2 separate regions of the Homo sapiens genome follow, and region 1 is linked to region 2. The links come from fine-mapping of genetic effects on gene expression. A gene starts in region 2. The other region holds a variant in brackets. All regions are shown on one strand. Distances are from middle to middle. Region 1 overlaps SHB (SH2 domain containing adaptor protein B). Region 2 holds the start of SHB (SH2 domain containing adaptor protein B).

Region 1 (5,000 bases), 47 kb after region 2:
GACCCAGCCTGGCCCGGAGCCCACCTCCCACAGAGAGCTGTCCACAGCGATGGGTGGTTGGTCCTTGTAAGGGGAGGTAGGGGGGTTCTTCTGTGAGGCAGTTGTGGTGATTATACTCTGACATTTTTAAAGATGATTTTAAGAGGAAAGTTAGTGGTATAGGCATTGAAGAAATCGTGTGGACCTGGGAGTTTGGAAACATGGGTTGGGTTACCTGGTCCTGGCATTAACTTTACTAAGTTCATCCCCACTCACAGCCTTCTGTCCCCAGTGGATAAATGGTTTTCAAACTATGCATGGTGTCACTTTCTTCAGTGGTGCATGTGTAAGATTCCCTTTGCAGAAATCATGCACACACAAGAGTTTGAGATCTAGCAGAATAGACCATCCCCCAGGGATCCTTTCAGTAGTGGCTGCAGACCCCTCCCCGGGTGTTTTTGTCCTCAGGAGGGATGTGCTGGATTTTCTATCCATAGTCCCTGGCTGAAAGCACTTAAGAAATTCTAGGATTGAGGTATTTCTGAGTTCAAAATAGAACCTCCCACTACTTGAGAGATGCTGAAAAGCCTGTCTCTACCACTTGAGGTTCTGGGGTAAACAGAGGGTGGAGCCAGGCTCTGTTCCCAGCAGCCTCCTACCCAGGACCCACAGCTCACTCTGAGGGGGTGAAGCTGGAAGACAGTGGGCTGTGTGTGTGTGTGACGGAGAGAGAGAGGCTGAGCAAGCAGGCTTGAGAGGAGCTGACAGAGGCTGGAATTTGGAATGTGTTTTTCCTAACAAGTCGGAGCCTGCAGGTGTCTAGGCAAGCAGCTGTGGCCGTGGGAGGGGCAGGACTGGAAAGACCAGTGGTGACCACTTTAACCCCCCACACTCCCAGCCTCCTGACATGTGGGGCAGGTCACTGTCAGGTCTGTAAAGGAGCATTTAGGACAGAACACCTTAGGTCAGTAGAAAAACGGATAGTGGCTGCTGGGAGACAGATTTCAGCTCAGTGTAGGGAAGACACTTTAGTGGTGATGGCCGTCCCAGAGGACTGTGTTGCCACATCATGAGCTCCCTGCCCCTGAAGGCATGTGGGCGGAGTACTTGGCAGGGGCCTTCATGATGCAAGAGGGGGCTTTGAACTTTGAGGCAAGCCAGATCTTAGAAGGTAGAAAGCAAACCAATCCTAAATGGAGTGGAAAACCAACCTCCCCACCGTCTGATTTCCAGCAGTTGCAGCTGAGTGCATGAATGTAGCTAATTAATCTTCCCTAAATTAATTTCCTTACCATGTCAGCAGTGATTTATTGGCGTGCCTATAAGGAGAGTTGGTCTATGATGATAGTCAAAGCTGAGGACAGGAAGAGGCGAGTAGGGGGCGCTTGTGTGTGTACCTGCATGGGTGTCCCATATCCCTGAGTGGTGTAACAGCCTGGTGCTGTGGACCCCTCAGGGCCCTGGATGCTGGCCATAGGCAAGTCACACTTCTGTCTCCCAGCACACAGGCGGAAGTGCCTCGAGAGTTATGAGAGGTTCTCCACCACTTTGCCAGGTGCCCCAACTAGGGCATGAATCTTACCCAAAGCAGGAAAGGGGGGAAAAAAGGGCATTCACAAACATTTTCCTTTTTGTGTTTGAGAAATAGGACAGCTGTTGTCATGCATAATTGTACCCATTTTCCCTGGTAATCACCGGGGCCTTGGCGGGGGTTTCTTTTCACGTCTTTGTCCTGTCTTCCCTACCAGATTTTCATCTTCTCGTGGGCAGAGACCCTGCCTGAAAGTGCTTTTGCCCCTCACCGCACTTACCTTCATCCTGGAGGTGCCATCTGCTCTGTAACAAGGACACGGCCTTTTCTTTATAAATTACTGACACATCCTTGGATCATCTGATTATTTGCTCCTTACAACGTTTATGTGAAGCTGAGAAGGCAAACCACCCTGCTCCACTTCACAGGTGACCTGCCGAAACTCAGAGAAAACAGGTTGCACGGAGTTACCCAGCAAGGGTGTAGCAGAACCAGTTCCAGAGCTCCACTTGCCTGGACTGTCCCTGCCTGGC[G/T]GCATCCTTTCTGCACTGCCAGCTGCCTTTCTGTATATTTACATAGCCTCGGGCAGCTGCTGCAGCCCAGCTGCCACCGGTCAGCCTTGGGACTTTGGAAATGCTGCCTGCCTCCGCCATGGCAGGGGTTCTGCAACCCACTTAGCCAGTCCTTAAAGCCAGGGCTCTGCTTGGGGCAGCTCAGACCTCTACGTCCAAGTTGAGTCTGGGCTTTGCACTGTATGTGCACTAGAAAGATACTGAGTGTGGCATCCAGCCAGCTGACCTTCCCCCCAAAGCAGAAGCCCATCTTAGAGCCTCTGTTTGGACACCCCACGCAGCAGGAGCTCCCTTTCCCAGGCAGCGTGTTCCTTTACTGGCTGTCGATGTCTTTCCTGAATCACCTGGCTTGTGTCTGTATGGCTTCTGGGTCTGCACAGAACATCTGTCCACTACCGCTTCTCTGAGCGGCCTCATCATTATTTGAAGCCCTCTCCAGACCCCCAAATCTCTGTTTCTGTAATGTCATCTTTGTTGGCATGGCAACAGAGCCTCCTTCCTGTGGACATCAGGCCCGCTAGGGCCTGTGTTATGGGGGGGTCCCAAAGGAGGACTGGGACTTCAGGCCTCGGAGCGGGGACAGAGGCACTTGTGCTGCTGCTGCCGCCTCACGTCCCCAAATGCTATTTGCTCACCTTCAAGGAGCCCTCCTGACCCTCAGAGCTGGGGAGAGGGCCAGGGCTCCCGGCAAGCCAAGACAAAGAGCCCCAGGCCATCATTCTCTCAGAGTGACCCTCTCACAGTCAATGACAGGCCTGTGTCACACACCAAACCGCATTTTTAGCCAGGTGAATAATGAGTGTTGAATTACGATGCAGTCGACGCGTCGCATCTGTGCACCTGCTGCCTTGCTAAGGTAAAGGAGAGAGTGTCTTGTTTTCACTGTTCATTACTGTGGCCCTAGACAGGGGGGCTTGCTTCATGACCTTCCTATGATGTGCTCAACAACACTCTGTGGGTGTATGTAATGTGATGAGGGGAGGCACAACTTCATCAATGATCATATTCTCTAAGAGATTAGTGGCCCCCAAACTGTTAAGGAAATTAATGTATAGTCTTAAAGGTGAATCAGTGAGAAAATGGTCTGACTGGGAGCATTGAGAACATTCTCAAGTGCATTCATATGCGGTTTGCTTTGGCATAGAGCAGAAGTCAAGGGCCTGGCAAGAATCAGGGGCCTTGTGGGGTGCTGCCCCCTCACTTTCCGGGGAGAGGAGAGCAGCACAGAGACCCTTCAGCCAGCAAGACACTCTCTCCTTTGCCTTAGCAGGGTGGCGGATGTGCAGATGCGACGTGCTGACTGCATCATAATTCAACACTCATTATTCACCTGTCTAAAAATGCAGTGTGGTGTGTGACACAGGCCTGTGCTGTCCCACAGACAGCAGGGCACATGAAGGTGACCATGGGGCAATAGGGACAGTGTGGGCCACTCGATCCTGGAAGACAGCAGCCAGTCTGCCTCTCTCATCATTCTTTTTTTTTTTTTCTTTTGAGACAGAGTCTCGCTGTGTCACCCAGGCTGGAGTGCAGTGGCACGATCTCAGCTAACTGCAACCTCCGCCTCCTGGGTTCAAGCAATTCTTCTGCCTCAGCTTCCCAAGTAGCTGGGACTGCAGGCATGCACCACCACGCCCAGCTAATTTTTGTATTTTTTAATAGAGACAGAGTTTCACTATATGTTGGATAGGCTTGGTCTTGAACTCAGGGTTATCTGACCTCAGGTTATCTGCCCACCTCGGCCTCCCAAAGTGCTGGGACTACAGGTGTGAGCCACCGTGCCCAGCCTCATCATTCTTTTTTATTTTATTTTTATTTTTTGAGACAGAGTTTCGCTCTTACTGCCCAGGCTGGAGTGCAATGGCGCGATCTCGGCTCACCACAACCTCCACCTCCCGGGTTCAAGTGATTCTCCTGCCTCAGCCTCCCAAGTAGCTGGGATTACAGGCATGCACCACCAGGCCCAGCTAATTTTTTTGTGTTTTTAGGAGAGACTGGGTTTCTCCACGTTGGTCGGGCTGGTCTCGAACTGCTGACCTCAGGTAATCCGCCCGCCTCGGCCTCCCAAAATGCTGGGATTACAGATGTGAGCCACTAAGCCCGGACATGCCTCATCATTCTTTTTAGCAGGTTTGAGCAATTTCAGCAGAGATTCCCTTTGCATTTCTGCAGTGGCTCCTCTTCTGAAGTGCCACCAGCCCTTCCTGTAGCCGGGTGATCTTCCTAGAACGAGTTTGCTGAGAGTAAATTGGCCTTGGCCTGAAAGCTGCTGTGGGTTTCAAACAGAAAGCCTTGCCTTGCAAGATCCTCGGGGCTAGGATCCCTGTTGGGCCACCCCCCCACCCCGTCACTTTCAGGGTGGTGACAGGGCAGAAGTCTTTTTTTAAATTTATTTAAATTTTTATTTTCATAGGTTATTGGAGAACAGGTGGTGTTTGGTTACATGACTAAGTTCTTTAGTGGTGATTTGTGAGATTTTGGTAGCCCTCTCCCCCTGCACAGGCCGAATTGCTCAATCTGGAGCCAGCCCACATGATTGCAGAGGGGTTACCATTTCCTCCATGTCTTAGATCCTGGAGATGGCACGTCGGGTCCTCTTTTTCTCCAGTTGACCACCAGGGAAGAAAACAAAAGAGCTGCATGTTAGCACAAACTTCTTGCTTCACTTCAACGAACAGGGCTGAGCAATACCTGGGAAAAGTACAATTCCAGAGTAATATCTGGAGGCTTGTCTCTAGACTGGTGGGGAAGGGTGCTGGCTCTAGCTTATTGTTTCCCAAGCTTTCCTGATAAGGATCACCTGGCTTGCTTGTTAAAATACAGATTATTGGGGCTAGGAATCTGTTTCCTTAACAAGCGTTCCAAGCCATTCCTGTCTTCAGGCAAGTTTGGGAAACATTCTGTCTACTGTACCAAAA
Region 2 (5,453 bases):
ATAATGCTCTAATACTTCTACAAGTGTTTGTCTTCCTAAACCGTTTGGCAAAGTCCTTAGGAAGCTTTTTCTATTTCCCTTCAGAATGATTATTTCGGACTCTGAGTCTTGGATGGTCGTCTCTACAAGCTCCCAAAGGAAAACACCCATGTGGTTTTTGCCTGCTTGAGGTAAATACCACCTTAGGCCAACTACCCCATCTGTAAACTGGGAATAACACCAGATTGCAGGGATGTTGAGGAGGGTTAATTATATACAGAGTGTCTAAGGGTTGAGCAGATACACAAGTGCTCTGGAAGTTCTTGGCATAATACTATAGCATTACAATAATTCTGGCTTGCAAATTATACCCCAGCAGAGGTATCACATGGAAAAGTGGATCCGACTCTACGGCCTGATGAAAGTGACATGGAAAAAATAAGTTATGAAATATAACTTCTCTTCCTGAACTTTTGGAAAAGGCAGAGATAACCTTTCCATGTGCAAGACACATGCAGGGAGCAAGCTTCCAGATTCTGGTGAGGACTTTCTTGTCTCAGGTGGCCTGGCCTATTGCCAGGATCTGAGCCCAGAAGTAGAAATGGGAAGGAAGGGAGCTGGGGAGGATTTGTGGTTGGATGAAAGGTGGGGCTTAAAACAAGGATGTCCTTGCCTTTCAGGTTTTCTACTGGGGCCTCCTTACGTGCAAGATAATTAAGTGCCAATGCGACAGAGGAACAATTTAAAGGGTAACGGAGATACTTAAGTCTAGGTATATTCAAAATAAACATCCTAGCCAGGTCAACTTCTGGGTCCTCTCTGCATGCCCCAGACACATCACATCTCTCTCTCTCTCTCTCTCTCTCTCTCTCTCTCTCTCACACACACACACACACACACACACACACACATCCCTTAGATTATTTCCTGTGAAATGCTAAGTAAATAGATCTCAGGCAATGAAGATGCTCTGTAGCTGGTGATAGTATCTGCGACTGTGAGACGTCACATAGTGGGTTTGGAAAATTCAACTGGCCACAGAGGATGACAGTTTTGTCTGACCAAGGAGGGAAAGGGCAAATAGCTTGATTCTGGAATAACAAATTTGAAGTCAATTTCACTTTACCACTGTGTATGGCTGAGCAGACAGAGGTCAGCTTCAGGATAAGACCGAGTTCAAGTCCTGCTTCTATCACTTCTGTGCTGTGGCCTCAGGCATGAGTCTGGGTGGGTTACAGAGAGGAAGCAGTAACAGCTCTCAGGCCTTCCCTGTCCAAATGTCTCAGATTGAAATCTGAGTTTGACCTCTACTTCCAGCGTGGCCAGAACTATGATGTGATCAAAAGAGCCCCTGGCCTTGCTGTCTGCCCTCACAGTTCCCACTGTTACTACAGGATATGGGAAAAACAGACTCCCCCAAAGCACATCTATAACAGACAGACAGCAAATGCAGATTATTGATTTGGGCTATTGTTTTAGTAAATCAACATTCTTAGAGAATTTCTCAGCTCTCAGGTGCCCACATCTTAGAGTTAAGTCACATTTTGAGGGTTGCCCAGGCAAATTCAAAGCAGCACCAGGCCCTAGTGGCAGCTACTTCATCTTTAGGCAGCATTTCCCTCTCAACAGGGAGCATGCCACCTCCCCTGGGTGCAGATCCCAGGAAAAGTTACACTGACCAAATCAGGCCACTCCCTGGGACTGTTTCCTCAATTTTGGTTAATAATCAAAGGATGATCTGAAATCGCAAAGAAGAGACTCTTGGAAAAGACATAATTATGGTGCCACCCGACTTAGGAACTGGCATCCAAGTCCACCTGTGTGACTTTCCTCTGGGCCTCAGTTTCTCCATCTGTAAAATGAGGTCCTGTATTTATTTTTTGAGACGGAATCTCCCTCTGTCGCCCAGGCTGGAGTGAAGTGGTGTGATCTCGGCTCACTGCAACCTCTGCCTCCCAGGTTCAAGCAATTCTCTGCCTCAGCCTTCCGAGTAGCTGCTGGGATTACAGGTACCCGCCACCACACCCGGCTAATTTTTGTATTTTTAGTAGAGACGGGGTTTCACCATCTTGGCCAGGCTGGTATTAAACTCCTGACCTCGTGATCCACCCGCCTCGGCCTCCCAAAGTGCTGGGATTACAGGCGTGAGACACCGCACCCGGCCGAGGTCCTGTATTAAATGGATCCTTGCCAGCTCCTACAACATAAGGCATTAAATGTTCCCACAACTTGCTCCCCGCCGGCTGGCAGCGAACAGGGCTAAAGCCTCGACTTCCTCAGAGGTGAAAAGGTAAGCAAACATTCCGACCTCCCCTAGCCTTGCTCTCGGATTGGTGCTGGGCCCGGCTCCCACCGCCTATCCCGACCACATCCGTCATCTGGACTGCTAATACACTCATTAGCATAAAGATTCCTCCGAAGACCTGGCGCACGGGGCTGAACCGGAGTCTGTCCCTTTAAGGAAGAGGGACAGCCACTCTGTCCCTAAGGGCACTAGGCACTGCATTTCCTCCACACGGGCCACGCTGTAAACTAGACAGGTTCCGTGTTAATCCACTCTCCCTCCTCAACCCCGACAGGGGGATCCCTGGAGTGAACAACGCGCGGGGTCCCGGGGGACTGCGGAAAGGTTTGGCCTCTGCGCGTAGCAGGCTCCGCCAGGCAACCTCTCGCCCGAGGCGGCGGCGAGCTGCAAGCTAGGTGGAGCCGGCTGCGCGGCGGGACCCCAGCGCCCTGGGGCAAGACCCTGGTGCTGGCGCCAGGGCAGCCGCGGGAGGTGGCGTGTGCAGGAGCGGAGAGGTGCGCCCACCCCGGCCCCGGGCGCGAGGGGGGCGGGGCTTGGGCCGCGGCCCGGGGCCAGGCTCGCGGGGATGGGCGGTGCTGGGTCTGCGGGAGCGGGCGGGGGGCGGGGCGCGCGAGCGGGCTCCGGGGGGGCGGGGCGGCGGCGCGGGGCGGGCTCTGGCGGCCTGAGTGTCACACACGCGGCGGCTCGGGAGGCGGCGGCAGTGGCAGCGACAGGCGCCGCCGGGACGGGCACGGGCGCGCGGGCTCCGGCGGGCGCCGGCTGCCTTCCTCCGTCGCTCGCTGTCTCTCCCGGCCGCATTCTCCTCCGCTGCGGGGCCGAGCTCTCCCCAGCGCTCGCAGGAAGGAAGAAGGGAGCCGAGGACGCCGAGAAGTTCCCGCGGCAGCCGCGGATCCCGGCCAAGGCGGAGGCTGCGGCTCCGACGGGGCAGGAGCGCGATCCACGGCGAGGGGCGTACGGCCAAAGGGTCCGCGGCGTGGAGCGCTCGGACCTTCCGCTCTCCCCCGGGCGTGGGCCGGGACCCCATGAGACGCGCCCACGAGGGGCGCGAGATTCCTAGCTTGGGCGGCGCTAGGCGGAGGGAGGTGTTGCAGCCGCCGGAGCCAGAGAGCTGCCGGCAGGAGGCGGCGGCGGCAAGAACTTGAACTTGGCGTCGGGAGCGGGCGCCCCGGACGCCCCCCGCCGGGGCCGGGGCGCCGAGGGACCTGCGCCGCAGCGCTGCCCCCCGAATGGCCGCGGCGGCGGACCGGGCTCCCGCGCCGCGGCCCTAGGCGGCCTCTCGCCATGGCCAAGTGGCTAAACAAGTACTTCAGCTTGGGCAACAGCAAGACCAAGAGCCCCCCGCAGCCGCCGCGGCCAGACTACCGCGAGCAGCGGCGCCGAGGCGAGCGGCCTTCGCAGCCCCCCCAGGCCGTGCCGCAGGCCTCCTCCGCCGCCTCGGCGTCCTGCGGTCCGGCCACCGCCTCCTGCTTCTCAGCCTCTTCGGGCTCGCTGCCCGACGACAGCGGCAGCACCAGCGACCTCATCCGCGCCTACCGCGCGCAGAAGGAGCGAGACTTCGAGGACCCCTACAACGGGCCTGGCTCGTCGCTGCGCAAACTGCGCGCCATGTGCCGCCTGGACTACTGCGGCGGCAGCGGGGAGCCAGGCGGGGTCCAGCGCGCCTTCTCGGCCTCGTCCGCGTCGGGCGCCGCGGGCTGTTGCTGCGCCTCCTCGGGCGCGGGGGCCGCCGCGTCCTCGTCCTCGTCCTCCGGCTCTCCGCATCTCTACCGCAGCAGCAGCGAGCGGCGGCCCGCCACGCCGGCCGAGGTGCGCTACATCTCCCCCAAGCACCGCCTCATCAAAGTGGAGAGCGCCGCGGGCGGTGGGGCCGGGGACCCCCTGGGGGGCGCCTGCGCGGGCGGCCGCACCTGGAGCCCGACGGCCTGCGGAGGCAAGAAACTGCTCAACAAGTGCGCCGCCTCAGCCGCGGAGGAGAGCGGGGCCGGCAAGAAGGACAAGGTAAGGTGCCCCTTGGCCTCTTCCCGAGGTTCCAGAGCCACGGTGCGCACGGGGAAACCGAGGCACCCGCCGCTCTGGTGTTGAGTCTCTACTTCAGCTTCGGCCTAGGACCCTGGGTCGGGGCTGGCGTGCTGCTTCCCGCTTCTGCCTCCTCCCGCGCCCTTTTCCTGGGACCGGCGGCCTCCTGACCCCACCTCTTTCGCCGCTGCTTCCAGAACGTCCCCTCTGAGCGAGAGCGCCCGGCCCAGCCTTGCCCCAGGAAGACGGACCCAGTCAGTCCTTCTGGCTGCCAAGGAGTAAAGTCAGAGTCAGAGCTGTCTAGGACTTCGAAGAGCTTTGACTCCTGACACCCCTTATCCCAGCCTCCACCCTCCGCTCACGCTGTAGGTGGGAAACTGAGGTCCAGAGCAAGGAAGGGACTCGCCCAATATTACACAGCTTTCTTGGTGGCAGATCCGGACCGGCTGTCTCCAGCGTGTATATGTAAATCTCTCGCGGCTGCCCTGCCCGGCCCTGCCCTGCCCCACCCCCAGCTCTAGGTTTCCAAATCCGGGCTGCCTGGTACCGGAGCTGCTCCGGGAACCTCCACGCGTGCTTTTCCGGTTGAAATGCGCTGCCTGCAAGAGCGCTCCTCATCGAACCCGTCAGTTCCTCCCGCTGCGCGCGGGAGGGGGTCAGCCTATCAGGCCCGGCTGGAAGGAGACCCCACCCCTCCTATCCTCACCTGCTTCCTTCCTGACCTCACCCCTACCCCATAAGGTCCCAGGAACACGGGGGGACTTTGTGACAGCCCCCTTCCTAACGCATTAGGCCACCTAGATTCCTCCCTTTGAAGCAGACGAGTTAATTACAGCCAGACTAGGTCCCCTCCTCCCCCTTCACACTCCTGTGAAGCCCTCCCTTCCCCCATAAAATAATACTTGTTCTGTCTTCTGGTGGAAGGCAGTGTTTTGATTAAATCTGAGGCCCGGTGGGAGAGCTCCTTCCTTCTCAGCGCCCTGGTGCGTGGCTGTTGTTCTCCCCACCTTCTTCCCCCAAAGGTAAACCTTTGCCCAGGCCTGGGCTGGGGGAGACTGATTAAGAGTCTGAGTTCCTTTTAGGACTGGATGTCCAGACAGGAGGGAGACAGGCTCTTACCTGCCATCTGGTGCTTGGAAAGGGATCTTTTTTG

What was found. PIP is the estimated chance that this variant, and not a neighbour inherited with it, causes the effect. A credible set is the group of variants that fine-mapping cannot tell apart.
Region 1: its variant is the best candidate, but not a certain one, in a credible set for the expression of SHB in sun-exposed skin (GTEx, PIP 0.56).

The regions. Positions count from the first base shown.
Region 1 is chr9:38,020,244-38,025,243 of GRCh38, reverse strand. The region is part of intron 1 of SHB (SH2 domain containing adaptor protein B); the gene reads left to right. Among named protein-coding and RNA genes, the nearest start is that of SHB, 46 kb to the left of the region's middle. RefSeq lists an enhancer at 3,269-3,778. The variant G/T (reference allele first, on the strand shown) is at 2,044.
Region 2 is chr9:38,066,758-38,072,210 of GRCh38, reverse strand. SHB (SH2 domain containing adaptor protein B) reads left to right here and starts at 2,984. Exons shown (of 6, transcript NM_003028.3): 1 at 2,984-4,282. The coding sequence starts at 3,566. LOC105376039 (a long non-coding RNA gene) reads left to right here. Exons shown (of 4, transcript XR_007061483.1): 3 at 85-170; 4 at 660-784. RefSeq lists silencers at 2,574-3,383, 3,804-3,853 and an enhancer at 3,744-4,547.